Regions from separate parts of the Homo sapiens genome. Here all the other regions are reported to be linked to region 5. The links are microRNA targets in miRTarBase. Many come from high-throughput screens and were not tested one by one. Region 5 holds a microRNA gene; each other region holds the end of a gene's coding sequence.
Evidence for each region. The annotated mature microRNA hsa-miR-433-3p reads AUCAUGAUGGGCUCCUCGGUGU and lies in region 5 at 2,590-2,611, opposite strand. An mRNA with a match to its seed (bases 2 to 7 or 8) in the 3' UTR can be bound and repressed. Matches are read on the target gene's strand: a 7mer-m8 pairs with bases 2 to 8, a 7mer-A1 pairs with bases 2 to 7 and ends in A, and an 8mer does both.

Region 1: miRTarBase lists MTMR9 as a target of hsa-miR-433-3p. Seed matches in the 3' UTR shown: 7mer-m8 at 4,677-4,683.
Region 2: the mRNA of STARD7 is a reported target of hsa-miR-433-3p. Seed matches in the 3' UTR shown: 7mer-m8 at 4,280-4,286.
Region 3: miRTarBase lists BRWD1 as a target of hsa-miR-433-3p. Seed matches in the 3' UTR shown: 7mer-m8 at 1,636-1,642 and 7mer-A1 at 5,107-5,113.
Region 4: the mRNA of FGF20 is a reported target of hsa-miR-433-3p. Seed matches in the 3' UTR shown: 7mer-m8 at 4,528-4,534.

Annotation. Positions count from the first base shown.
Region 1 is chr8:11,322,072-11,327,071 of GRCh38, forward strand. MTMR9 (myotubularin related protein 9) reads left to right here. Exons shown (of 10, transcript NM_015458.4): 10 at 554-5,000. The coding sequence ends at 717. MTMR9-AS1 (MTMR9 antisense RNA 1) reads right to left here and starts at 3,357. Exons shown (of 2, transcript NR_189628.1): 1 at 3,245-3,357.
Region 2 is chr2:96,181,984-96,187,859 of GRCh38, forward strand. It overlaps STARD7 (StAR related lipid transfer domain containing 7), which reads right to left. Exons shown (of 8, transcript NM_020151.4): 7 at 5,234-5,318; 8 at 2,876-4,931. The coding sequence ends at 4,747. Among named protein-coding and RNA genes, the nearest start is that of STARD7-AS1, 23 kb to the right of the region's middle.
Region 3 is chr21:39,191,613-39,197,755 of GRCh38, reverse strand. It overlaps BRWD1 (bromodomain and WD repeat domain containing 1), which reads left to right. Exons shown (of 41, transcript NM_033656.4): 41 at 341-6,143. The coding sequence ends at 1,497. Among named protein-coding and RNA genes, the nearest start is that of PSMG1, 11 kb to the right of the region's middle.
Region 4 is chr8:16,988,359-16,994,501 of GRCh38, forward strand. FGF20 (fibroblast growth factor 20) reads right to left here. Exons shown (of 3, transcript NM_019851.3): 3 at 3,823-4,959. The coding sequence ends at 4,714. Among named protein-coding and RNA genes, the nearest start is that of FGF20, 11 kb to the right of the region's middle.
Region 5 is chr14:100,878,417-100,884,559 of GRCh38, reverse strand. It overlaps MIR433 (microRNA 433), which reads right to left and starts at 2,674; the gene lies at 2,582-2,674. RTL1 (retrotransposon Gag like 1) reads left to right here. Exons shown (of 4, transcript NM_001134888.3): 4 at 1-4,807. The coding sequence ends at 3,848. MIR431 (microRNA 431) reads right to left here and starts at 3,553; the gene lies at 3,440-3,553. It overlaps MIR127 (microRNA 127), which reads right to left and starts at 1,581; the gene lies at 1,485-1,581. It also overlaps MIR432.

The sequences.
Region 1 (5,000 bases), not on the chromosome of region 5:
AATTGCCTGCAGAATTGAAAGATTGCCTCTCAAGTAACAGGGAGAGAGGCATGTAAGCACGTGGGCTACAGTTCAGGCTTTCAAATAACAACATATGTGGTTCTGCTTTTACTGTAGTTGTCACTTTTCAGGTGAAAATGGCTTCACACATTTAAGGGATCTTACATGTCTGAGCAATATTCTATAATTATAAAAATAAGTGATTTATATTGTGAAATTGGAAAGTTTATGACATTGCAAATTATCATCTTGTTTTCCTGAATATATCATAAAATGGTATTTGGATCTATTTGATAATTTTGTGGGATATTTCTGAAGAATCAATGAGCATGTACATACAAGTAGTGACTTCTCAAATATTGTATTCAATTGCATCCTTTTCAGTACCTCAAGATTCCTGTATATTTTAGAGTATAATAAAATACAGATGTGAGTTGTGGCAACAAAAGAAAAAAGAATGTATAATACATAAATTACATCTTATCCACAAATGTAATTTTAATCCATTGTATATACCTTTCTTGCTTCTGTTTTCCATTCCTGGATTCAATAGGTATTTTCCTACGTTGGAATAGATCCTCTAAGTATTTGGATGAAGCATATGAAGAAATGGTTAACATCATTGAATATAATAAAGAATTACAAGCAAAAGTCAATATCCTTCGAAGGCAGTTGGCAGAACTGGAAACAGAGGACGGGATGCAGGAGAGTCCCTGAAAGGTCTCCTCGCACCCTTCGCAAGGACCTTCTTGGGCCTGTGTCCGCCGTTCTCTCCTTGTGCCCTTCAGTTCACTTTTACACGGTAGCCTTGAAGTGAAGGCTTTAGATGTGGGACCCCCCTAATGTAATGGATTTCTCAATACTGTATGAATAATGAAACTTACTATCATAAACCATGTTTCATGTGGCCTGTTAGGGCCTGTCACTTTGGGAGCCGGAAGGAGGTGCTAGTCATTTTATTTTTACGTGAAATAGATGACCTATTTAATGCCATTTGTGTTTCATGCCATTTTATCCAAAGCTTTTTCTCTGTGTCCACTCTCCAAACAGCATTCTAGAGCAGTCAAGGAGACAGCTAATCTCTCTAGGGACTATTTGGTGGTTTAAAAAAAGGGTCAGACTTTTAAACACTCTGACCATAGAAATGTTTTTCAAAATGGCAACAATGGATAAACCAAGGATTTTGTGTTTAACAATCCATTTCCAGTGTCTTCGCCACATAAAATAGCCATTTTCTTTAAAATAGTTTTGGACTAACGAAGCTGAAATCTATTCTCATTCTTGTTTGTCAAGAAAGGAAAATCTGTTATTCAAGGTAAATTATTTCTACAAGGGCAACAGGTATGGTCCTCCGATATTTACATTAAGAAGAGTTAAATTTATTTTAACGTAGACACTAAAAGTATGTGCAATATACAATTAAAGTAGGAATTTGTTACTGATTGAGAATTGTTACTGGTGAATTGGTTTTCAGGTTTTGAGCATACATATACAATGTGTTTCAAATGCTGCTTGTAAAATTAAACCATCATCTAGAATAGAGTTAATTTATTATAATCAAGCTACAAATAGGTTTTCTTAAACCAGAGATGCACTGCCCTTGTCTAAAGTTCTTATTGCACTGGTTTATATGTGTATGTGTGTTTTATTGTGTGTTTTTTTAATTTGTAAGTATTCTAAGAGTTTCCTAATACTAAGGTTAAAATTTTCATGTTGACCTGAGCCTTTTGCAAATTTGCTTTGGCTCTATTGATTTGTCCATTATGTGTTAGGCAAATATAACTTAAGTGGAGGGGGAAGTTTATGAATATAATATAGCTCTGTGTTTTAAACCTCAGAAACAGATTTGAGTGTTTCAGTATTATAGAAACAGTGATGACTATTCATGCTCTGCTAGTCTATGCCTGCAACTCCAAATGTTTGTGGTTCAGTATTTCCCACCTACATTTCTGTTTGGTGACATTGCTCATTTTAACAAATATGACCGAGTCTAGTTTTTCTTTAAAAGGATAGTTTATGAGTAATCTTTAAAACCATTTCCATACCATCTGTATATAACCATTTCGGTAGAGAACACACTACACTGAACCCTGCTTTAGAGCTGTGTGTTGAGCTAAAAATATAATTTTTTAAAAATTGACTAGCAAAATCTATGGCCACACTGAGAAGCCTTTGAAAATGGCAAATACTTTTCATCACCAATTGCCCAATTCATCTTTCTTCTGCTTCCTCAGCCTTGTAGCAAAGGCTACACAGCAGCCCACAGTCCACAGTCTTTTTGGGAAAATTGGCCTGCCACCTTCTTTAAGCTCAGTTTATTTTTGACTTACTTTCTTTGCTGTAGTTATGAACCTTGGGGCATTAAAATCCCATGGCAAGGAGCATAAGAGATGTTCTCGTAGCTCTGCGTTGTGTGAAATGTCCATCTTAGTTTTGTTAAAAAAAAAAAAAAAAAAAGGAAACAGCCTCACTTTTTTGTGCTCCCTCAGAATTGCTTGCTATGTCTGTTAATACAGCTGAGCTTTTTGTTTTCTTCTCTTTTTGTCTCAAGATTGTATATGAAGGAGGCTTTTCTTCTCAGCTAACAGGCATATAAGGAAAACCATCTAGAGAGTTTTCTTTAGAAGTGACTCCCATTAGCCTGGTGTGGTGGTGTGTGCCTATAGTCCCAGCCACTAGGAAAGCTGAGGCAGAAGGATCCCTTGAGCCTAGGAGGTTGAGGCTGCAGTGAGCTATGATCGCATCAGTCCACTCCAGCCTGAGCAACAGAGCGAGACCCTGTGTCTAAGTAAAGAAAAAGCCAGAAGTGACTCCCACTGCTTCTGTTGATCGGCCATAGGGCTTCCATGGGTGGAAACTTGTGAGGGAGTTTGTATTAGGTCTGGTCATGGAGGGATGATGTACCATCAAGGTAGACCCATCTTCCTGATGCACATTTGCTGTGCGAGCCAGAGTACAGTCATAACACGGTATTCGCATTTCGTTTTCTCTGTCTCACTGAGACAACAATCTATACTGTTTTGGCAAGTTTGCATTTTAGTATTAATTTATAATTAGGGATTGTTCAAACTTCAGATCTGTTTACAGGTTGTAAAAATAAACTTCGGTATCAGTGCATCTACAGAAGTGTTATTTGGTAATCCAAATATTAGAGTTTTCCCAAATCCAAAAACGGTCAGAAATAAGTCCATTATCAATATAATTTGAAGAAGATTTTTAGTAGTACTGTGAAGTTCGTGCTTACCTGGATGAGAAGAATAAATGACACGGATACACTCCTGAGAAGACACTCGTTAAACATTGCATCGGAGAGCTGCCTTTGATAAATGTGCTGTTAAACACTTGAATGAAGAGAATGGTGGCAGAATGAGTGAGCAAGCAGATTGCCCCAGAGGGGCCGGTAATAATCACGTGAGGGATAATCAGATTCCTGCGTATTCAGCATCTTCTCTATTCATGTGGAGTGAAAGCTGGTTTTTATACAGGAGATACGTAAAGTAGGCCCCACAAATAATATTTTTAAAATACAAAGGATCACCACAATCCTCTATTGAACATATAAGGATCCTCAGATTTAAATAAGTACTTTTTTTTTTTTTAATCAGAAGAACATTGTTGTTTGATTATATGTTTTTAAAAACCTGAAGCTTTTTTGGTGGCAGGACCTTTCAATAAATATTTATTTGGTCAAAATTTTTTATTTTGATTTTATTAAATGGGAAGAAAGCAAGCAGAAATAGTAAAATTCAGTAGGTTTAAAACAATCTATAAATGTATTTTATTTCCAAGAAAACTTAGGGTCTCAAAGCAAGATTTTAAAGTGATTTTTGAGAAGACTTGGGGGGGACAATAATAGACATTCATGTCAGATCCCATATGGGGGATTTTTAAACATTTCTTTGAACTTTGAGGCCTGATTTAGGGGTGGGATTTTATTGCTTTTTGTTTTAAAGGATGAAATTTTGTGGGGTTTTAGTCTTTGATTCAGTCAGTATTTGGTTTATGTTAAATAAAAAATCAGTATCATGGAAAAGATATGACCATAATTTAGTCTCCTCAAGTGAAAAACAGGAGTAATGTTTCGTTGCACTTTGAAAGATCTGCTTCAAGGCATAACTCGTGTAGTTGTCTGGTTTCAGGGATAGCTGTTTGAATTGTCATTCTAAAGTAGGTCATCAGGTTCACTTATTATCCGACCTTAATCTGGGATAAAGGTTTTGGTATTTGCCCACTTCTAGATAGAATGAATGAAAACAACACAAGCGTTTTATGAGCACTCTTTATCAGAAAGGTATTTCCTGGACCAGAAATGGGCAATAGTTACAATAGTTGATCCTCTGTTCTGGAAGCTTTGAAATTTATCAGAGAATGAAGTCATTCAGTACATCTGATAAAGTTTTGTTGTTGTTGTTGTTGTTGTTGTTTTAATTGGGCAACCCTCAGAACTGAAGAGGTTCAGAGAACTTTCCAGGTTTATACTATACCTCAAGACCACATAGATTAGCTACTGCTTATTCTTTCACATGGGCTAGGCCTGTTCTCCTCCTCCAGACCTAGTATTCTAAGTTATTACCACATAGTATTTTTATGTTACCCATCATCTTTAAAAACATTATAGGCTGGGCATGGTGGCTTACGCCTGTAATCCCAGCACTTTGGGAGGCCAAGGCGGGCGGATCATGAGGTCAGGAGATCGAGACCATCCTGGCTAACACGGTGAAAACCCATGTCTACTAAAAATACAAAAAATTAGCCAGGTGTGGTGGCGGGCGCCTGTAGTCCCAGCTACTCAGGAGGCTGAGGCAGGAGAATGGTGTGAACCCGGGAGGCAGAGCTTGCAGTGAGCCGAGATCGCACCACTGCACTCCAGCCTGGGCGAAAGGGCAAGACTCCATCTCAAAAAAAAAAAAAAAAAAAGACTCATTTATCCATTTACATTTATTCTCAGATGATAAAATATATACTGATACTATAACTTTCTTATGGTATCAGTTTTCTTT
Region 2 (5,876 bases), not on the chromosome of region 5:
CCACACAACAAAAACTGCAAGGCCTATAGAGAAATGGGTTTAGGTGTGCAATACTCAAATCTTTGTGACACATAAAAAGGTACCAGTTTCAAATATGTCAATGGTTAAGAAATAAAGCAGTCTACCTTGACCTGCAATTTGCAGGCAGAAACACACTGGACAGCCCACCCAGCTCCCACGCGTACCACCCTGCATGAAGAGGAAGAGAACAAAAGATAAGACAAAGTGAGAGAAAACATAGAGAAAAAGAAGAAAGATTGGGCTGGGCGCAGTGGCTCACGCCTGTAATCCCAGCACTTTGGGAGGCCAAGATGGGCAGATCACGAGGTCAGGAGATCAAGACCATCCTGGCTAACACGGTGAAACCCCAACTCTACTAAAAATACAAAAAATTAGCCAAGCGTGGTGGCAGGCACCTGTAGTCCCAGCTACTTGGGAGGCTGAGGCAGGAGAATGGCGTGAACCCGGGAGGTGGAGCTTGCAGTGAGCTGAGATTGCGACACTGCACTCCAGCCTGGGCAACAGAGCAAGACACTCCATCTAAAAAAAAAAAAAAAAGAGCTATAAAATTTGCCGGGCACGGTGGCTCACACCTGTAATCCCAGCACTTTGGGAGGCCAAGGCAGGTGTATCACCTGAGGTTGGGAGTTCAAGACCAGCCTGACCAACATGGAGAAACCCCGTCTCTACTAAAAACACAAAATTAGCCAGGGTGGTGGCGCATGCCTGTAATCCCAGCTACTCAGGGGTCTGAGGCAGGAGAATCGCTTGAACCCGGGAGGCGGAGGTTGTGGTGAGCCGAGATTGTGCCATTGCACTTCAGCTTGGGCAACAACAGCAAAACTCTGTCTCAAAAAAAAAAAAAAAAAAAGCTATAAAATTTTAGCCGGGCACAGTGGCTCATGCCTGTAATCCCAGCACTTTGGGAGGCTCAGGCGGGCGGATCACGAGGTCAGGAGTTTGAGACTGGCCAACATAGTAAAAACCCACCTCTACTAAAAATACAAAAAATTGGCAGGGCGTGGTGGCAGGCACCTGTAATCCAAACTACTTGGGAGGCTGAGGCAGAATAGCTTGAACCCAGGAGGCAGAGGTTGCAGTGAGCTGAAATCGAGCCACTGTACTCCAGCCCGGTCAACAGTCCGAGACTCTGTCTCGGGAAAAAAAAAAAAAAAAAGCTTTAAAATTTTATCACCAGTGTAGTTTTGTGTATCTAACACCACAGTTGACTGTGGTGGTAGACCAGCATCGCAAGGGATCCCTGGTGTTGCTCTGGTTTGTTGTTTGGTTTTTCGAGTTTCGCTCGTTGCCCAGGCTGGAGTGCAATGGTGTGATCTTGGCTCACTGAAACCTCTGCCTCCCGGGTTCAAGCAAATCTCTCGCCTCAGCCTCCTGAGTAGCTGGGATTACAGGTACCCACCACTGTGTCCAGCTAATTTTTTTGTATTTTTAGTAGAGACGGGGTTTCACCATATTGCCCTGGTTGGTCTCAACCTCCTGACCTCGGGCGATCCGCCTGCCTCGGCTTCCCAAAGTGTCAGGATTACAGGTGTGAGCCACCCTGCCTGGTCTATGTGGTTTTTTTTTTTTCTTTAAGACAGAGTCTTGCTCTGTCACCTGGGCTGGAGTGCAGTGTCGTGATCTTGGCTCACCGCAACCTCTGCCTCCTGGGTTCAAGTGATTCTCCTGCCTCAGCCTCCTAAGTAGCTGGGATTACAGGCATGCACAACCACACCCAGCTAATTTTGTATTTTTAGAAGAGACGGGGTTTCTCTATGTTGGTCAGGCTGGTCTTGAACTCCCGATCTCAGGTGATCCACCAGCCTCGGCCCCCGAAAGTTACAGGCATGAGTCACTGCGCCCGGCCATTTCTAAATCAATCTTCCATTTCTAAAATTTTGTCACTTAAAAATGTTATAGGCCGGGCACGGTGGCTCACGCCTGTAATCCCAACACTTTGGGAGGCCAAGGTGGGTGGATCACTTAAGGCCAGGAGTTCGAGACCAGCCTGGCTAACATGGTGAAAGCCCATCTCTACTAAAAATACAAAAATTAGCCAGGTTTGGTGGCACACACCTGTAGTCCCAGATACTAGGGAGGCTGAGACAGGAGAATTGCTCGAACCCGGGAGGTAGAGGTTGCAGTGAGCCGAGGTCTCGTCACTGGACTCCAGCCTAGGCGAGAGTGAGACTCCGTCTCAAAAAAAAAAAAATTAGAGAGGTAAAACACAAATGAGGTTGAAAGAGAATAAAGAGCAGAGTGTGAGGCAGAGCCAGGATGGCCGATGGAAGGGCTGCGGCTTGCAAGCATGAGATGGGGCGTGCGGTTCTCTGGAATCAGATGGTACACCACACAGGGACGTGTGCCTTGTGTGTTCCTATGCAGCTCAGTTCAACTGGGTGTGCTTTTGTGTTCACCTAGTGCTTCCCACAGGCAAAATTACACATAAACTCATGTTATGCTCAGAGCATGCCAGCAGGACTGCCCCTCCGCCAAGAGCGCTGACTTGACCCTCTCCTCAACCTCAACCCTAGACCTCAGGCCTGCTTCTGTCCCTCCTGATTTCTACCGTCTGCTAAGCTCTAGCACTGCTCCCTCCAAAGTGATCTTTTTTTAAAGGGAAAGGATATGGGTCAGTATATCAAGCTAGGGAAGTGGACATAGGTGGTTTATTTTCAGTTGCCAAGCAGGTCACTTGGAAAGGGCTCGTGGTCTAGGCAAACTGTGTCAGCCACTATCTACCAAGAATGAACAAGCCCTGCCACTTCCACCTCCCAACTCTCAGAGTAAAATTCTTTTCAACTTTGTGATCAGAAAGAAATGGTAAGTCCAATATGCAAGATTTTTCCACCACCATTTGTCCAAAGACAAACACTTTTTTTTGTACCAATCTTTATGTATTTATTCACACATTTGATAAAAATGTCACAGTTAGGAGTGAAATCATTACAATGACATGAGTAACTGTACAGACAGACCCCAAGTGCAGAATCAAATTGCCCTAAGTCAGAACATGGAGCAACCGCAACTCCTTCGCACTTGTGCATGTGTGTGCGCTCGCAGACGCACACACACACACACATATTCTCTCTCTCTCTTATGCACACATCCATCCACATCCCAACAATTGCAGGTGCTAAGTTTGGACATAACCCAGGGACTCTTCCCTGACTTCTGTCAGGTCCTGGAAAGAAGAAGTAATAAATGAAAAGCAGCTGGGACTGCTCGATGCATCTCTCCTCTTCCAACAATGACGCGGAGAAGGCAAGACATACACTGGGGCAGCTACTTCCTTGGCACAAAAATGAACAGGCAACAAGAAGGTCAAGGAAGTGTTTAAGTTAGTCTCAGGTTTAAACCACTTTTCAACACCACAAAACAGTAGCAAGCAGGAAAACAAAAACAAAAACAAAAACAAAAACTCTGGCCCTCAAGACTCCAGAAAAAAGGGAAGGAGGAGGATTTAAAACTTGATCCCTATTATTCTAACAAATTGCAGCATGACCATAAGCAAAACCAGCTCGGTCAAACTGACAGCATCAGATTGTGACCTTATCTGAACAGTGTAGTTCACTTTTATTTTGGCTCTGAAGAGAGGAAGAAAAACTTTTTAGAGGAACTTAATGGTAACATAAACCAAATCTCCACTGTATTAGTATTTGAGACAAGATTACATCTATGCATTCACACAGCTTGTCTGTAGATCTGAGAGCTCCAAGGGAGTGGCCCAGCCCCCATTCCTCTGACTTTAGCCTTCTGAAAAGAACAAGTCAAACCTGAAATATGAAAAATAATACCTGAATCAAAATGGTGTTTTCTATACAATCGGACTAGGGTAGAATCCTGCTCAATTCCTCAACTCCTATTTGACACAAAAGTTAAAAAATTTTTAAACTAAATTTAAATGTGATGTTTTGAGCATCAAAAAGCTACTATCTAAAAGGATTAGTCTCCCAGTGTTCTTGGTAAATGGGGAAGGTTAGGAAGGAGGCAATGATCCAATGAATATAGAAGAACTGGCCGATTCACAGGAAACTTGCTTTGGATAAGGTGAGTCAATGGGTGATATTGTGCAGGCAGGGAGGGAAATTTCTTTGTACAAATTCATGTCCCTGGCCAGGCATGGCCCAGGAGTTCAAGACCAGCCTGGGAAACAGAGTGAAACTCCATCTCTACTTAAAAAAAAAAAAAATTAATAATAACTTCATGTCTCTAGAGATAAAAGCAAGGTGCGGACAAGGCACTTAACATAGCCAAGTATCGTTCACACCCATTCACATCATGATTGTTACCAAGAGCACTCCCAGTAGCCCCTCATTTGAGAGACTCAACTGGCCAACTATACTTTCCAGGTGGACCTGGAGAACTGAAGGAAATCCAAAGCGCTGCACAATCGATGGTGGGATTTGGAATGTCAGCAGAGGAAACTACTCAGAGAAGCAAATGGAGGTCATCCCCTTCTGGCCTGAGGTGAGAGGTTTGTTCCAGATTAGCTCAGTGAGATACCGAATTTCAAAACAGTTGGCCTGAGAATATGACAACACTCCCACAAATGTAGCCTTCTTCTGTTTTGATAAGAGCAATAAGGGCTCTGAATGAAATGGGACATCAGTTATTGAATTATCTTGCACTGGAAGTTACAGCAGATGCCTTCTAATACATGTGGCATGTCCCCCTTCTACAGCAGAGTGATAACGGACTGAGACAGGGCTAGAAGCACCTTGTCCCTTCTTATCCCAAAGCCTGTCAAGCATACTCAATCCGAGCAGGGCCACAGCTGCCCTCGTTCTTTCGCTCAGAGGACTGGCTGGTGGCCTTGGCTTCACTACTCATTTCCAGAGGCTTAGCTGAGATGTAGTCCTTTACTTTAATCTCCATATTCTTGGCTTTCAGAGTGGCCATGTGCAGCTTCTCCAGGAAATCTGGCATGCCTGTCAGGAGACGAGAATCAGGTTAAGCTGACATACAAACCAACAGTAGGCTCAAAATGAGAAGACCCTATTTCTTTGATGGTAGGGAACTAGTTCTTCCTTATAAAGATCACAACCTGACTAGCCTGTGAATAAGAGCTGCCTCCCGGAATGTGTTCCCAAAGCATGGGTTGTGAAAACTCTGTCTCAGAAAAAAAAAAAAAAGAAGAACCAGAAGAGACGTTTTATTTCCCCATTAGGAAATAGAGAAAAACAAAATGCTCAACCCAGGTTCCAGGCCCTGTATACTTGCCCTTACTTACCACTGGAAACCATCCAACTAACACAGTAGCGAGGAAACACCGTTTGGGGATTGTCACTGTATGTTAGTAAGTAGTCAAAGCCATTCTGGAAAAGAAAAACAGCAAAAATGAAGATCCCTGAATCACCAACCACAACCTCCATATCCAGTACCATAGAATAACTATGATCTGATTCTGGAGCAGGGAGTGTCATTTCTTTTTTCACCCTGTGCAGAAAAGAGTTAACACTGAAGGCCTGAGAGACTACTATCTATAGAAAGGTCTCCTTGCAATGTTGACCCTTGGCCAACTTCGCTCCCAGTCAACAGTTAGCTGATATGGGTGGCTCCCTGTGCATAGACTATGCAAACAACGTGGTTTATGCTGAACACAGGCTTTGCTTTGCAGGGTTTGGAATTCTGGTATGTGCTAAGCAGACGGTACTAAGTGACCAGCTCCCAATAAAAATTTTGGGTGTTAGGCCAGGCATGGTGGCTCATGCCTACAATCCCAGCACTTTGGGAGGCCGAGGCAGGCGGATCACCTGAGGTCAAGAGTTCAAGACAAGCCTGGCCAACATGGTGAAACCCCATCTCTACCAAAAATACAAAAATTAACCGGCCATACTGGCACACACCTGTAGTCCCAGCTACTCGGGAGGCTG
Region 3 (6,143 bases), not on the chromosome of region 5:
AACTGCCTGCAGGATTCAGAACAGTAGCATGTCATACAGGTTTGTAGCCTAGGAGTAATAGGCTATACCATATAACCTAGATGTGTAGTAGGGTGTACTGTAAGGTTTGTGTAAGCACACTCTGTGATGTTTGCTTAAGACGAAATAGCCTAACGATGCATTTCTCAGAACGTATCCTTGCTGTTGAGCAACATATGACTATACTAATAGGTGTGTACCATTCCATTCACTGCAATACCCCCTTCAAATTAATACGAATTCTGAACTTGTTTTTAATATTGAACATATAATTCCTTTAGACTTACAAAAGATTAATAGAAATCTGCTCTTTAACTTTTAGATTCTGCATCACAAGACAATGGACTAAGCAGAAAAATTTCCAGGAAAAGGGTCTGTTCCAGTGACTCAGACAGTAGTTTACAGGTGGTTAAGAAATCATCAAAAGCCAGAACAGGTCTCCTGAGGATTACTCGAAGATGTGCAGCTACGGCTGCCAATAAGATCAAGCTCATGAGTGATGTAGAAGATGTCAGTTTAGAAAATGTGCACACTAGAAGCAAAAATGGAAGGAAAAAACCTCTCCATCTTGCTTGTACTACAGCTAAGAAGAAATTGAGTGATTGTGAAGGAAGTGTACATTGTGAAGTACCAAGTGAACAGTATGCCTGTGAAGGCAAGCCACCTGATCCTGACTCCGAAGGTAGTACAAAAGTGCTTAGTCAGGCTCTAAATGGAGACTCAGACTCTGAAGATATGTTGAATTCAGAACACAAGCACAGGCATACCAATATTCACAAAATAGATGCACCTTCTAAAAGAAAAAGTTCCTCTGTTACATCTTCAGGAGAAGATTCAAAAAGTCATATTCCAGGGAGTGAGACTGATAGGACATTTTCTTCAGAGTCAACCTTGGCACAAAAAGCTACTGCAGAGAATAATTTTGAAGTGGAACTGAATTATGGGCTGCGCAGGTGGAATGGCAGAAGACTCAGGACCTATGGAAAGGCTCCTTTTAGTAAGACAAAAGTGATTCATGATTCACAGGAAACAGCAGAGAAGGAAGTAAAAAGGAAGAGATCGCATCCTGAATTGGAAAATGTGAAAATCTCTGAAACAACTGGGAATTCAAAGTTTAGACCTGATACTAGTTCCAAATCATCAGATTTGGGATCTGTAACTGAATCAGATATTGACTGTACTGATAATACAAAAACCAAAAGGAGGAAAACGAAAGGAAAAGCAAAAGTAGTTAGAAAAGGTAAAACTTTTACAGCTAACATATCTAAAACTGTGAGACGTCAAAGACAAAGCAAACGCCCTAGGTTAAGTGTGGATGATAATGACTGGGAGGATTTGGACTATGCAAAATCTAAAAGAGTTCTTCGACGTTCAAAAATAAAAACGAGAAATCAGGGTAGAAGGACTGTGAGATACCATGATGGGGATGATGACAGAAGTTTAGAAAATGTGTTAGATTTCAATGGTTGCACCTTATGACCTTGAGGGAAAGCCAGTTCATTTAAGAGGAAATGGACTGGCATTTATGGTGAAAGCTGGCTGTTAAAATTATTTTTTTGTCTTACAATTCAGGGAATATATTTATATTTTTCTATGAAAAGTTATGAATGTGACTAAATCATGACTGTTATTTTTATTTGCACTTGCTGGTCTTTGTAGCAGCATTCAGCACAGGTGCCAAAATATGCTTCATTTTGGGGGCAGATCTATTTTGACAGTATTTGACTACATATAGCAAGAGTTTGAAATATGTTAAACACTAGACATCCTGGTTATCAAAACCAATGAGCATTACTTTCATGGCAGCAAGTGTCATGCAGTTATTTTCTGAATTTGTCAAAGAGGCAGTAGTTTCTAACCCCTGTTCTATAGTAGTTACAACAATTTCACAACCTATGTTTACAGATTCTTCATAAATACATGCATACTGACACTATAATCATGGGAGGTGTAACCATGATTAGTAGGCGAGGTACCTACCACTTTTTTTTTTTTCTTCCCCTGGCTACTTGAGTAGAATGCATTATACCAGATCTGGTCACTTTCATTGAAATGGTTTCTAATTTTCTTCCCAAGTGCTGTTGGGTTTTTTTCTTCTTAAGGAAAACGTTGTCACTTTTATGTTATAAACTTGAATTTATAAAGTGCTGGTAAATTATTTTTAATGATTTGAGTGCATGTTTTAAACCTCTAGGACCAGAGCATAGTCAGAGCATTTTCTTTTAAATTGTGCACTAACAAAATGCTATATAATCTGTCTTCTGTCCAAGATCTCCTGGTTTCCATTGTAAGGGATTTAACCAAAATCTTGCTCTTCCATAATCTTACTCTGTGAAATAGAGGAATTCGTGTGCCTTAGATTTAGAAGTGTGTTCTTTAATAGAGTGTACAGGGCTAAAAGAGTATTTAAGTTAATATGTAGGTTTCCCCCATCTGTATTCCAATTGTAGAGGTGAGTTTTGTTAAGAGTACAATTGCAAATCTTATCTATATAGGAAAATAGCTAAATGTCATTCTCCATCTCTTTGTTTTAGTTTACTGCTTCCATGTGCAATCCTAAGCATTCTTTGCTGGGGCAACTAAATGTATCTTTATTAGTGACTTCTAGTCCAAATATAAGAAACTGTCATGTTTTGTGGGAAAATAATTTTATAATCCATTTAAAGTGAAAGTTTATCACACAAATAGTACACTTATTTTCTAACCAAATACTTGATAGGTTATGCTACTCCAGTGTAGATGGCCATTCCTAACTTGTTTGTGCCTGAAGATGGACTTGATTCAAATGGTTTACATATTTAGTGGGTAAGGGATATGTTACAGTACCCCACCTGTAAGTTATTTATTAGCCCTAATTGTGTTTGATTTCAGACAAAATTAACCCTTTTCTCCTGTGTATCTTTGAAGTGGCAGATAAGGTGAAGCATCAGACTGGTATCAATATTAGACAATGTTATTTATTAGCCCTAATTGTGTTTGGTTTCAGACAAAACCTTTTCTCCTGTGTATCTTTGAAGTGGCAGACAAGGCGAAGCATCAGACTGGTATTAATGTTAGAGAATGTTCTGAAGTGTTCCTATTTTGTAGTTATCTATTCCATTTGACATAGTAGAAGGTACATTTTCTTTCTACTCTGATGCATGGGGAAGGATGTTTTTGGACATTATCAACTGAGATAGGTGGGAAACCTCCTCTCATTTGTGGCTTAGAGAGCTATCACCATTTCAGAACTATGATGCTTTTCTTCTCAGAACTTGTGTTAAGTAGATAGTAAACAGATTGATTCATGATAATTGTCCTTGACTAAGACTGAAAAGACTAATGGGATGCCTTTTACTTTGCTAATTTTAAAAACTGGTGATAGATGTCAAATCCATTAATTTATTTAAACTCTTCTTAACCTTCTCTTTTATAATCTGTTCTCAGGTTTTAACTCCATGTTTACCATCATTTGCAAAAAGGTACCAAAAAAATCCATAAATAAATATGGAATACATTCATAAGTACATACATTCTTTTGGTATAAAACAATATTTTGACAGTTTAGGCTTCATTAATAGAACTATTCTGATTATTTGGACTGCATTAATTGGTCATTGACTGGCCATCCAATTACCATTTTTTCTTTCAGTCCAAAATAGTTAGACCCTTGCATACAGAAGTGGTATTTTGGTTTTTAATCAGATTTGGTTTCATCAGAAGCAGCAAGAATGGACCTGATGTCTTTAAAAGCATAGCCGACAATGGTAGCTTCTCAAGTTATGAAATAAAACTGAGAGATAATGGAGAAAATAATTTTTATGGGTTTTTTTGGTTATGGTGCTATTCCTAAGGTTAACTTTGAATATGTGACACACACACTCCTAAGTACCTTTAAGGAAAATTAATAAATCATTAATAGTTAAAATGTTTACATTGAGCACTAGAACATGTTTGGCCTTTTTTTTCTACGTTATGCAAAATGCCCAGGGATTTAATGCACAGGTGTACTTTAATGTTTAGGGTCAGTTTGTAGTATTCTTGAGAAAAAGATAAAGGGTTATAATTTGAATGTGAACTGATCCAGAAATAAGTGCTGTACCTTTCCACTGCACTTGAAGTTCAACTTAATGGTGTATGTGAAAAACAAAAACTACTTTGGTTGTGTATGTCCAAAGTCCTATGGTTTTATTCATTTATGGTTTTACAGGCTTTGAAGTACTCAGATTTGATTTTTGCTTTCTTGGAAAGACTCACTTTACCAAGCATATAAAGGAAAAATGATTTCAAACATTGACAAGATAGATGAGTGTTAACAAAGCTTTCTTTTTTCGTGTCCTCCTTATTTAAAAAGGTATACTTACAATGTGAAGTAACTTATGAATAAAAGGAAAAGTTTATCCCATATTCAAATAATTCCTAAGGTCAGCCTCCCTTTTTGTAAGTGGCAAATATCTGATTAAATCATTTCTCAGTTTATTAATCCTTGGAAACAATGATATAGCAGTTACTCACAGCTTGTAAATTACAACAGAAAGGTTCCTTTCAAATAGTAGAGCTGCACCTAAAGAGGAAATTGGGTTTATAAGAAAATGGAGGCAAAGAACTTAAGTTTTAAGAAAAAGCACTTCAAAACAGAAGGGCAAATGGAAAAGGGGAATATAAAACAAACCAATAAAAATACCATCTGAGGGTGTTACTGTCCAAAAGTAAAGAATAAGATGCATCACTAAGCCCTTTGCACTCGTTATGACCTCGTAAGTAAAAATTATCACTTAGAATAAGGGGTGCACACTACATTCCCTCTGTCTTCTAGACTTTTTTTTTTGTAGAAGAATCAGAAAACAATTTACTAACCTCCCTGTTTGATATTAAAAATAGGAAGAATTTTAATATTTTCTGTTAGTACAAGTTGAACTTGATTGTGCCAACTGAAACCCCAGAGGTTTGTATATCAGTAGAATGCAAGAACATTGTTAAAGGTGCTTACGATCTTTTTTGTTTTCCTTTCCACTCCATTGTATCAATTTTTTGAGTAACTTTTAAATGGCTAGAAAATGGTCTTTTTGCTTTGCCCTTTTAAAGCTGAAATAACCAGCTCCATTCTTTTCATGAATAGTAAGTTGATATATTTATTTATCAGGTATCTTGCAGTTGTCACCAAATACTGTAGTTTTCTTATGTTGTATGGAAATTATAGTTCAATTATTTTAATGTGATAGAGTGCAACAAGTCATTGTAGAACTTTTCACCTGTTAATGTTGAAGTTATACCTCTGAATTTCTGCTGTGGATATCAAGGAAATAATAAAGCAGAAACCCCAAGAAATTTGCAACTTAACAGTTTGAGACTGTCTCTTATCCTAGTATTTGGGAAGAGAAGGAATAAATTTGTCAAAACTAGGTGAGAAAATAGAGCATTGTGGGAAAAACTGAGTCCAACTAGATTAGCAAATGTTAATTCCTAGCTCAAACTGTGAATAGTAAGGATTGAAAAGTAAAGTATGTAATGCTAAGGGCTGTGTTGTCTTTTCTTACGATTTTAAGTTTTAAAGGCTGTTAAATTACAGAGATGTTGCCCAAGGATACATGGGGATTCTCAAAAGTAAGAGATTTTTACCTTTTTCATAATCTGCCAAGCTGGTTCCTAATATATTGTTAAATTGGTAGAAAAATATCTTTAAATTGGTGTCTGCTCAAGAATTGCTTTTCTAGATTTGATGGAGGGAGGGGGAGAGTCACATCATTTGGATTCTACCAATCTGCAGGCTCTATCTTTGGCAACATGTAAATAATTAGACTATACATCTGTTTCTCAAGTATGGCAAGACCAATAGTTTGAATTTAATTATCAATGCTATGGTATACTTTCTGGTCATATTTTAGTTATGTCAGTTTTAAGGTAAGTTTTTTCATTTATTAAAGCCCTTAAATGAGATTTTAGACTGCCAAAGAGAAGAGGCAGTCCAATTGACCTAACTGAAATGAGATGACCAGTATATAGAGCCTAGATGGACTGTAGCAGCTCTACCCCTTTGTTTTACAAGGTAAATCATTTTAAAAATTACCTTTTTTGATCAGTGGGTAAAAGTTAAAGGGATCTTTAATTTTTGATATATTCAAGTTAATTTTCTAAATGTGAATCAG
Region 4 (6,143 bases), not on the chromosome of region 5:
AGTCCGCCACATTCATTATTTGTTTGTAAATTGCACGGTGGTAAGAGGTGATCCTAAAAATTTTTGCTTTTCAAACATTGATTCCTTGATTTAACCTACTACCACCATAATCACAGTCATTTACTGATTCACCAAATATTGAGTAAATAATTATCATCACATTATGTTTTTATTAATCTTTCTTAAATGTACATGTGACTGACATTTATTTCAATGTTCAACATTAAAAGTGTTTTGGGTCATTAGTGTGAAAGTTAAGCATATAAACTGAGTCATTCATGTCATAACCAACTAAAACAGAGTCAAGAAGCCAGAGGGAAGAGAGCACTCAGGGCATATAGCATTGCCCCAAGAATGTAATTCTCTGCAAGCCTGGCTGCTGAAACTGCCTGCTATAACTGGAGACCAGTTTCATCTAATATCTACAGAAACAACCTGTTAGGACCCTAAGACTAGTTCTATCCACTGCAGTCACTCACCAATCAGAACTTGCCAGCTCCCCACATTTTACTAGTGTCAATTGAACTTTCTTTCAAAATGATACAGAACATTTCTCCTTTTTGTAAAATTTCTAACCTTCTCTTTGTTCTTTGGACATGCGAAAGACTCACATTGCTATTCTTGCTTCCCCAACAAAAACGTTAAGCTTAGAGATGCATCTCTAAAAGTTTATTTTGATTTCTACATTAGTCAGAGGGTTGGTGATATTTTTGTGATCAGACACATGCCATAGGAATGTACCTTTTGTTATATCAATTATCCCACAGTAAAACTGGTTTCATTATATGTCCTTTTGCTTAGTATCACTGTTTCCAAGAATATATCAGTAACATTAAGTGAGGACTCATTGTATCTGTAGGCTTAACAACTTTTCTATTGAAGCCAGGCTTTTATTATATATGAGATATTTCTGATGATTAGCTAATTCACAAAGCTGGAAATTGCCATAACTGCATTATGAACATAAGTGACAGCCTGAATGGCTTTCTTACTTTTATACATTAAGTTTATGATAGATCTATAATCTCACAAAGGGTTAGTGGCATAAATTCCTTGTTTTGTAACACAGGAACAGAAAACCAAACACTGCATGTTCTCACTCATAAGTGGAAGTTGAACAATGAGAACACATGGACACAGGGAGGGGAACATCACACACTGGGGCCTGTTGGGGGATGGGGGGCAGGGGAGGAAGAGCATTAAGACAAATACCTAATGCATGTGGGGCTTAAAACCTAGAAAACAAGTTGGTAGGTGCAGCAAACCACGGCACATGTATACCTACATAACAAACCTACATGTTTTGCACACGTATCCTAGAACTTAAAGTAAAATAAAAAATAAATAAATAAAATAAATTCCTTGTTTTGACATTGCATTTGTCTAAAAACCAAACCCTTTGGAATCGACAGACCAAGAGTTTTCTCCACCCCCATATGCTTAGATTTCTCTTATCATTGCAGAAAATGTGGAGGAGTTTGGCAATTGGTAGTTAATATTCCAATATAAAAGAATAAAAACTGAAAGTTAATTTATAATTACTAATAGAACATTTTTAAATGAAGAAAATAAGGAGACGAAAAGGATAACAGATGAAGTTTCTCACTAGCATCCTGAGAATATAATAAATTGGTTTCAAAATATCGATTTGATAATAAACCAAATTATTCTTATCTCTCCATGTATGAGTTAATTACTATGTTGACATATAACTTCCATTTAGCAGTATCAAGTAAAATCCCTCTGGATACCCAATAATCATTTCTTCAAATAGTGTCAGTCCAGCAAAGGCAAATTATTTTTCTGACATAGGAATGGATGCCAGTATATAAACATAATAAGATTAAAAGATACAGTGACTTTCTAATTTTCTACAAGTTTATAAAACCATTGTTTTAATCACATTTCATTCCTCAAATTACTACAAATGTCTGTCACAATAAAAATGTTAGAAATATATTCCTGTTATATCTCAAAAAAATTTTGATTGCAAAACAACGTTTATTTGGGGACATCTTTGATCAGTGTACTGTCTTTTTAAATGTGTACAATTTCCCTCATAGTTACAAGTTTTAGACACCAGAACCACTTTGCAAAAGACTTAAAATATTTCCTTAATGCTTGCTTTAGGGCATGTACTTCAAATATGGATGTCAAACATTGAACCAAAAGTAGTTTTTTACTTTTTAGTTTATAAATAAAAGTAAAAATGGGGTTATTTTGAAGATTATTTAAGTACTACTGCTAAACTATTTTTACTATTTTTTATATTCATAAAACCAAGAGGTTTTGAGCTAAAACATTTCCTTCTCTATCTCTCCCATATACACACCCGAGTGCACACCCAACTCTTCACATACACGAACATTCAAGTGTCGCTTTATTAAAGTCATATGTTGAACTCTCTCCTCTCACCATACACATCAGCATTAATTTATGTAAGTAAGAAGATGGTGAACGAATATAGAAATAAGATAGCATTAAAGCAATAGTCTTGTCATTCAAAGTGTGCTTCAAGATCTAGGAACATCAAGCATCACTGGGATGTTGTAGAAAGGCAAAATCCCAGATCATCCTCTAATAAGAATCCCCATGTGATTCATATGTACATTAAATGTTAGAAACACTGTTCCAGACTAGTGGCTCTCAAAGTGTGGTCAACATTACCTAGGAAACTAGGTGAAACTAGATGCACATTTTTAGACCCCACCCCAGAACTACACATCAGAAACTCTGGGGGTAGAGGCCAGCAATCCTTGTCTTACCCAGCTCTCCAGGTTGGTAAAGAGTGGCATCTGGTCCACTATCATTACTACATGCCCAACCATGAGGGCAGCAGCATTGACAACTGTTGGGCACTAGGAAATAAAACCTTAGAAGAACTTTTACAAATCTATCAGAATTTGTATCTGCTTAGCTTTCTAAACTCATCTGTGCCACTCTCCCCATAGCTCACTAAGCTCCAGCCACAAAGCTATTTCCTGCCTTAGGAACCCCAGACTCATTGTTTCCTCCCCCTAGAAGGTTCTCATCCTTCTCTTTACCTGGGTAGCCCCTTCTTAACCTTTAGGGCCCATCAGAAATCTAATCTCCCTAGAAAAGCTTTCTCTGAGCCATCCTACATTTATTCTTTCTTTTTTTTTCTGTCTGAACCTTGTTTTCCTCATAGAATAACTCACCACTCATAATTATGGTATTTGTTAATTTACTTGTTTACTATCTGTCTTTCCCACCAGCCATTAAGCTCCATGATGTAGGGCCCACCTCTATCTGGACCACCCCATTTTCCCCTAGTGCCTGACACTATACTATACTACTGTATAGTAGCCTTTAATGAACCTGTGCTGTGCCAGGCATGGTGGCTTATGCCTGTAATCCCAATACTTTGGGAGGCTGAGGTGGGAACATCATTTGAGGCCAGGAGTTTGAGACAAGCCTGGGCAACATAGCAAGACTCCATCTCCACAATAAAAATTTAATTAAAAAAGAAAATTAAAAAAAAATGTTTGCTGAATAAATGGCTAAATAAGAGATATAATGAAAAGAATACCCGACTCAGGTAGATGGGGACTTACCATTGTTAATGGAGGTGGTACAAAGACTTATTCTTCCTACAATCATATTGGGTGAAAGAAATGGTCTTTGCCACACTGAATTAAGAAAATAAGTAAACATAAGTTGGCTGTAATGTTCAATACTTTTCAACATTAGAAGTTCTTTAAATACTAAAGTCTTTCTCTAGGGCATTTAGAATTTTGTCATTTTTAAATGTTATATAAATAAAAGAACTGTCACCCGAAAAGCAATGAAGCCAAAACACTGCATGAAAATGTTTAATTCCCTTTTGAATGTGTGTTGAATTTAATACAAATCAATGAGGCATTTTTCTAGGCCAAAAGAAACCAACGTTACATTTAGAAGGCAATTGACTGCATAAAAAATATAATCTATACTATATTTTAAAAAGAAATTCAAAATCTGATTCTATGGTTAAGGTGGTATAATAATGTCCTCTTTACAGAGCAAGACACCACAATAAAGTAATGGCACAATAACGGAAGTTTTGTTGTTTTTTACTCTTTGTATTATCTTCATATCCCAGTAAAAAATAAACTCTTTAATAAATAAATATATATAATAAATATTTTCAAATTGAAAGTGTATAAATAGGTCCATTCTTTTAAAAAGTGTTCTGTCTTGGTGTGGCATGTTTCATAGTTCATGTTTCACCCAGGTGTTGTTTAGTTTTTTTTTTTCTTAAAACATATAATGCCATAACCTGTGAATTCTACAAGGTCCTCAGAATTTATGTAGCAATGCTCTTGGCTAAGTCAATCCATTTCTTCAACATGAAGTCTCTATTTTTAACATAAATTTTAAAGTAAACATAATCCAGAGAGGTGAGGCACCAGCAGCAACCATGTGAGGGTTCCCATTATCCACAGTTTAACAGATTTTTGGCTTCAGTCTACTGGTAAGGACTAATCCAATGTATCTAAGGGAACTTAATCCACATATAAAGAGTGATCATGATCTATTTCTAGTCAAAATTTTTTTTGGTTTTTTTTCTCAATATTCTTTCCAAATCCAGTCTCTCAGTAGAAAATAGACTTTAATATTTTGAACGTCTCCTTGGGTCATTATTTTATGATGGGAACTATGACAAGAAAGAATGGTTGTGGTTTGACTCTTCCATAATGTCACTATCGCACTTCAAGTGTACATCAGTAGGTCCTTGTACAATTCTGGAACTCTTTCTGGATCCACTGGTCTAGGTAAGAAATGTGTAAATTTCTGATGCCTCTTGGACCTGGCGCCATCTCTTGGAGTTCCGTCTTTGTTAAGTGCCACAAAATACCTGCGGCCAGTGTCTCCATGTTTATATATGTTAGATGAATAGGTGTTATACCAGTTCTCTTCAAACTGCTCCCTAAAGATGCATTCGGAAGTAAGTTTCTCCTGAAAGAGAGAAGATAACTATTATTTTTTAAAAAAATACCTTTGAGATAATTTCCTTACAAGTTTCAACTCTATATTTTCATTTCTTTGCCTTGTCAAAGAAAGAAAAAGGTTAAATTGGTTTTGCTTTATTTTGTTTTAGTTCATATGTCATCTCTGATTCTTAGTGCAGGTGACTTCATCTGGCAGTGTACTTTAAAGTTGCAGTCCCCACCTCTTTGGCACCACTGACCAGTTTCATGGAAGACAATTTTTCCACGGACCAGGATGGGGACACGGGATGGTTTCAGGGTGATCCAAGTGCATTACATTTATTGTGTACTTCATTCCCATTATTATTACATTGTAATATATAATGAAATAATTACACAACTCATCATAATATAGAATCAGTGGGAGCCCTGAGCTTGTTTTCTTGCAACTAGACTGTCCCATCTGGGGGTGAACGGATGCAGTGACACATCATCAGGCATTAGATTCTCATAAGAAGCATGCAACCCAGATCCCTCGCATGCACAGTTCACAATAGGGTTCATGCTCCTATGAGAATTTAATGCTGCCGCTGATCTCACAGGAGGCGGAGCTTAGGTGGGAATGTGAGCAATGGAGAGCAGCATGTAAATTCAGATGAAGTTTCGCTCACTTGCCTGCTGCTCACCTCCTGCTGTGCAGCCCAGTTTTTAACAGGCCACAGACCAATACCAGTCTATGGCCCAGGGGTTGGGGACCCCTGCTTTAAAGAACTTTCAGTCAAATGTCAGTTCCCAATTTTATTTTCAAATACCTAAAAAATATCCTGAATTTTCTCATGTCCCATATCATCACCCTACTCCCGCCATCACTACCAAGCAGACCTGTAGTTTATCTTTTTCCATCGTTAGAGGCCAGAGTTCTACCTATCAAGTCTCTACTCTCACCTTGGAGCATTTCAAGATCTTGCTAAGAACCAAATTCCAAATTCATGATCATCACTCCAAATCATATATCTTCTCTTTATGAATTTACTAACTGTTTGATGATACATTCTCCACGATTTTTTATCTGGATCTTTTACGATTAAGATTTATTGTCTTTTCAAAATGGACTGTATATTGTCCTAAGTGATAAACCACAGTTGCTTTTTTTAAATCCAAAATACACATGAAGATTGTGTGCATGTTTTTTCTATTGTAATTCTATTAATC
Region 5 (6,143 bases):
TGGAGGAGCCATCCAGTGGCCCACGTAAGGAAATAGAGGATCCACCCAATGACCTACTCCAAGACCTGGAGGAGTCATGCAACGGTTCACACCAGGCAAGGGGGGATCCACTCAGTGGAGCATCTGATAGGATGAAAGAAGCATCAGTCAACCCATCGGGAGCCCGAGAAGAACAAGAGGCTCACACTGACCTGAAGGAATCGGGAAGGGAGGAGACTCCTCAAGAGCAAAACCAGACCGAGCACTCAACCGCAGAACTTATGGCCATGGTGAGGTCCATCATCTCGCTGTACTTCCGAATGCAAGACCTCAAAGAGCAACAGAGAGTAGCAGAAGAGATCTTGATCAAAGGGATCAATGCAGGCCAACTGCCCGCCCCAAAGCACTTCTCTGGCGATCGCAGAGAATTCCACGAGTTCATCGTACTCTGCCAACTGACCTTACAGAGCTACCCAAGAATGTTCTATAACGACCGTCTGAGAGTTGGCTATGTCATCAATCACCTGTCCGGCTTGGCATTAGAATGGGCCAAAGCTCTACTGCAGGAAAACAGCCCCCTGATCGGAGACTTCCCAGCCTTCCTGGAGGCCATGTCCGAAGTGTTTGAGTACCGCCAGGCACTGCGTGTGGCAGAAGAGGCCATGTTCACCATCAGGCAGGGCGGCCGCTCTGCCACTGAGTACATCGATGAGTTCCAGAGCCTGGTACCCATCTTGGGCTGGCCAGATGAAGTCCTGCAGGCCCACTTGTGCCAGGGGCTCAACGAGGAGATCAGGCACTATCTATTCCGGGTCCCTCAGCCGGATTCCCTAGACAGTCTGATTGTGCTCATCCTGCAAATAGAAGAGAAGCTGGCAGAGAGAAGAGCTATGCTCAGGCTGCCCCCCGAGGCCCGCCCCCGGAACCTGACCTGGATCGACTCACCTGCTCCAGAGAGGTGGATGGTCAGCAGCTGGTTGCCCAGCGAAGTCCATCCGGACATCAATCGCGCCCACCTCTTCCTGCTGCTCATGGTGAGAGTGAACCCCTACCACAGCGTCGCGGTCCAGGCCCTGGTGGATTCGGGAGCTGACGGCAACTTCATGGATGAGAAGTTCGCCCAAGAGCACTACGTCGAGCTCTACGAGAAGCCGTACCCACAGCCGGTCCAATCCGTGGACGGCTCGCTGATTGGCAACGAGCCTGTCTGGCTCTACACGGAGCCCCTGGTGTGTATCCACCAGAACCACCAGGAGTCCATCGAATTTGACATCGTACCTTCACCGAACTTCTCTGTGGTCCTAGGCATCCGCTGGCTCCGAGTCCACGCCCCCGAAGTCGACTGGATCAAAGGCCGCTGCACCTTCCACTCTCCCTACTGCCTGAAGAACTGCTTCCGCCCGCCCCCGCCATGCATTGCCCTAGAGAGGCACGGCATGAGCCTGCTACCCGGACTGCCACACCCATACTCAGACCTGGCCGACGTGTTTAACCCGAAGGAAGCAGATGATGAGACTTCCGACCAGCCAAGCTCAGACGGATCCGATGATCTTTCTGAATCAGAGCCCTCTGAGCTTCAGCAGGCTGGAGACAGTGATCACAGCGAGACCTTTTACGAGTGTCCCTCCACCGCGCCTTGGGAACCTGTGGGTGCCAGGATGCAAGAAAGAGCCAGGCTACAGGAGGAATACTGGGACCTGCAGGACATGCTGACCAACAGACAGGACTACATACAGATGATTCCGGAACTGTTTGACCAGTTACACGGAGCCGAGTGGTTCACAAAACTGGAGCTGCGTGGGACCATTGTGGAGGAAAGCGTGAACGGGCACCGCACCGAAGATGTGTGGAAAGCAGCGTTTGGTTTGGAGCTTGAAGAGATGAAGAGCTACCAGCCGTTTGCGCTCTCCCCAGACCCTATCATACCTCAGAACGTGATTCACTTCATCCTAAAGGACATGCTAGGGTTCTTTGTGCTTTCTTATGGCCAGGAAGTCCTGATCTACTCAATGAGTCAGGAGGAGCACCTCCACCACGTCCGCCAAGTCCTGGTCCGCTTCCGCCATCACAACGTCTACTGCTCCCTGGACAAGAGCCAGTTCCACCGCCAAACCGTGGAATTCCTGGGCTTCGTCGTCACCCCCAAAGGGGTGAAACTGAACAAGAACGTCATGACCATCATAACAGGGTACCCTACCCCTGGCTCCAAGCTATCTCTGCGAAACTTCATCGAATTCGTCTTCCCCTACCGCCACTTCGTGGAGCGCTTCAGCATCATCGCAGAGCCCCTGGTGCGGCAGCTGCTGAGCTCCTACCAGTTCTACTGGGGAGTCGAGGAGCAAGAGGCCTTCGAGTGCCTGAAGAGGGCTTTCCGCAAGGCGCCTCTCCTCCACCACCCCAAGCCCCAGAACCCATTCTACTTGGAAACCGGCGTCACCGGCACGGCCCTGCACGCCTCCCTGATCCAAATCGACGACCAAACCGGCAAGAGAGCCTGCTGCGCTTTCTACTCCCGCAACATCTCCCCTATCGAGGTTGAGTACTCTCAAGCGGAGATGAAGATTCTTCCAATACGGGCTGCCTTCATGGTGTGGTGCCGCTACCTGGAGAACACCGAGGAGCCCATCATGATCCTTCTCAACACAGAGGATCTAGCCTCTCTGAATAATGACAGGCTCACCGTACTTCTCCCCGGGCATTGGGTCTTCTTCTTCTCCCACTTCAACTTTGACGTCATGGAGCTGCCAGAACAAGACGGCGGCCGAGCTCTGCCACCTGTGAGAAACCTCCGGTGGAGGAGAGCCTTCCAGAGGAACACTGCCGCCAGGCAAACCCTGCTGCTGGCCTCAAGGGGATTCCCCAGGGATCCATCGACGGAATCCGGGGAAGAAGAGAATGAAGAACAGGATGAGCTCAATGAACAGATCCTACGGCAAGAGCTGCTGGCCATGATACCCATCGACCAGATCCTCAACAGCTTCCTCGCCCACTTCAGCATGGCCCAGATCAGGGCCGTCATTCTGCACTTCTTCCGAGGCCTCCTGTACTGGAAGAACACCCTAGCCCTGGCAGCCATCCTCGTGCTACTGCGCGTGAGGCAATGCCTCTCGCTGCGGCCGGCACCCGCCATGCGGGTGGCTCGGCCCCAGCCCCAGCGCTCCCTACGACTCATCCTGGATTCGTCCCTCATCGCAGGCAGCAGCATCACGACAGCCATCACCCAGCTGCTCACCCAGATGCCCGCTCTCGTAGGTGCAAACACCATCCCAGCCCAGGAGCTGGCTGAGCTGTTCCTGGGCCCTGGCCGCTGGCAGCGAAATGCTCTGCACTCCCAGGCCCACCGAGGCCTGCAGTTCACCCCTGGCTTCTGGCTGACGCTGTGTGAGTTCTTCGGTGTCAGAGTCACCCCCCAGGAGGGCCACCTCCCTGCCCTGCGTCAGAACCGCTACCTGGAGCTGCACGTCGTTGGTGATGAGGATGTCGTCTTGCGAGAAGCCCTGCAAGACGACCTGCAACGTTACCGTCAGTGTGGCCTGCATGACGGCCTGCAAGACACCTCGCAGGACAAGCAGGACAACGACGTGCAGGAGGCCCCACCCAGCCACACAGCAGCCACCCACCCACCCCGCCCACGCCACCTGATGGATCCCCAGGTCCTGGAATTCCTTGGTAGCCGCCTGCTCCACATCCACAGTGCAGATGGCCAGCTGCACCTGCTCAGCCGGGAGCAGGCAGCCAGGGCCCTGAGCCAGTTCCTGACCCTGATCTACAGGCGGGCCCTGCCCATCCCCGCCTGGGAGAGCCAGCCCAGGGAGCAGGCAAGGCTAGAAGAGCTGCCTGATGAGGACGAAGATGCTAACCTCGACTGAAGACGCCTCCCTGTCTCCAGCAAAGAGTCCCCTCTATTTCTCACCCCAACACCTCCCGACGTCCCCTGGCCTCCCCGCGCCTCAGCCTGCTTCGCTTCCCTTCCTGCCACTCCTGACCCAAGAGGAACCCACTTGTGAAGGGCAACAACTTCTTCAACTCATCAACCAGCAATGCCACCTGTGCTAACGGACTACCCAGTCCTCAGAGACCCAGCGCCAGCCCTGGGCTACGAGTTCTCCGTTCTCCAGGTCCCAAGCCCATGCCCGGGAGTGACATCCATGAGGGAGAAAGCAGTGGTGAGCAGGAAGTGACCCCATGACGCGTGGCCAGATGAAGAAGCAGGCACAGCAGGCGCAGCCAAGCAAGCAGGTGACGGGGCCCCCCACCCGGCCTGGTGATGGCCACCCTGGGACACTGACCTCGGGTGCTCCACTGACTTCTTCTACCTCCACTGCCGGTGCTCCTGCTCCCCTGAGCTCCCGCCCCCGCCCCCCAACCCCCATCCCCCAACCTCCCGACATCTGATGATGTGGTGCCTCCCTCACCCCCATCACACCCTGCAAGCAAACCCACCCCCACCCCCACCACATCTGCTTCAGCTTTTTTGACCCCGCCTTCCTCTTGCCCTGAGCTCTGGACTTACCTGGACAAAGCCGCTCTTTGGGGCATCCGGACGTACCAGTGCCACTTACCAGACTTGCACAGCAAAGAGGGCCCCTGCATGCCTTGGGGCGCCTTTCCCTCCCAACACTGAACACTGGACAGTGCAGGGGTGCAGGGGCCCCTCATACAGGGATGGAGTCCCAGAAGGCACACAGACACCCAGGGGACCATGCCGAGTCACAGAGAGGCTCTGGCCACACCACCGCTTTGCAAGGGGAGTAGACCCTTCCCCACCCCCCGAGCTTTCTCACCCCCCAATCTTTTTGCACTCCTCAAATAAAGCAAACTAAAAGACTGTCTGACTTTGGGGTTTGTTCTAAAAGTGGAGGTGGTGGGAGGATAGGCGGGGGAGGGGACACGCATGGGAGGAGGGAGGGAGTAGGTGGGGTGGACGAGGGGGCAAGTGGACTGGGCAGGAAGGGTGGGGGCAGGAAACGCTCTGCCCTGAAACAGCCCCTGGGGGCCTGGCACATGGGCAGCAGGCCTCCCCCAACCTTCCTGAAGGCGTCCCCACCAAGACTCTGGGCACTTCTTTCTGCCATGAGAAGGCACCCACCCCCACTGAGGCCACCAGGGACGTGCACCCCCCACAGGCTCATGTCAAAGAGAGGACAGAAGAGGTGCCTTAGGGCAGTGGGAGGCGGGGGAGTGGGGGCTGTCTCTCCTAAGGGTTCCAGAAAAGGGAGCCCCGAAACCCAGTTCCCACCTCTGGCCTTGGCCTCCTCGCCATGTGATTAACGAGGTGCGGTCTGAGCCCCACACTGCAGGGTCCACAAGCCCTGGTCTCAAGCAGTCCCTAACCCCCACTCCGAGAGGAAAAGTCCTGGGTCCCATTTCAGAGGGTCATGCTGTCCCCAAAGTGGCAAAATGGCTGTTGTGAGGGTGAGGGTGCACTGCCCTGGGTAGGGGAGCTGCCAGGGGTCCCACAGGGAGTTGGGGAGGTAGGGCAGGTGGCACTCACCCACTCTGAGTTCCCCCTCCACAGTCCAGGACATGCTGACCCCTCTTCCTGGCCATGGGTCACACCTATCCAGGAGTGGCCTCCAACCTCCCAGAGCACCCCCGCCCCACTGCACCCCTCCACAGGTGAGAGCTCTGCGAGGACACAGAGGGGAAGGAGCCGTGGGCCTCTCTCAGCATGACCTTGAACTTCATCTAGGAGGGCAAAAACACTGGAGCTCTGTGCACACGGGCCCCCATGCCAGGACACACCAGCTCTGCCCTCTCTGCCCTGCTGAGGAACCTGCTCCTGAAGACACACCGTGAGACCACCCAACAGATCTCAGGCTCAAAGCTCAGGGGCCCCGCAGGGGTCTGACTAGCCTGAGTTGGAGCCACCCCATCCCCTAGGAAAGCCATTTCCACCTGGCCCCAGAGTTCTCAGCTCCCACATGGAAGAGACCCTACTGTGTCCTCGAGGGGAGGCACGGGAGCATGACAGCCTCCAGACAGTGTGGCTCTGCCTCCTGCTCCTACCCATCGTGGACCAGGACCACTGGGCACACAGTGGGGAGCCCCTGACCAAGGACACACCCCACGGGAGCCCAAGGCTGGCACTGCAAGCTCAGCCTCCTTCCTTCCCTGCACTGCCCAGCCCCACACAGGGCTCACGATGCCCTCACAAGTCCCCA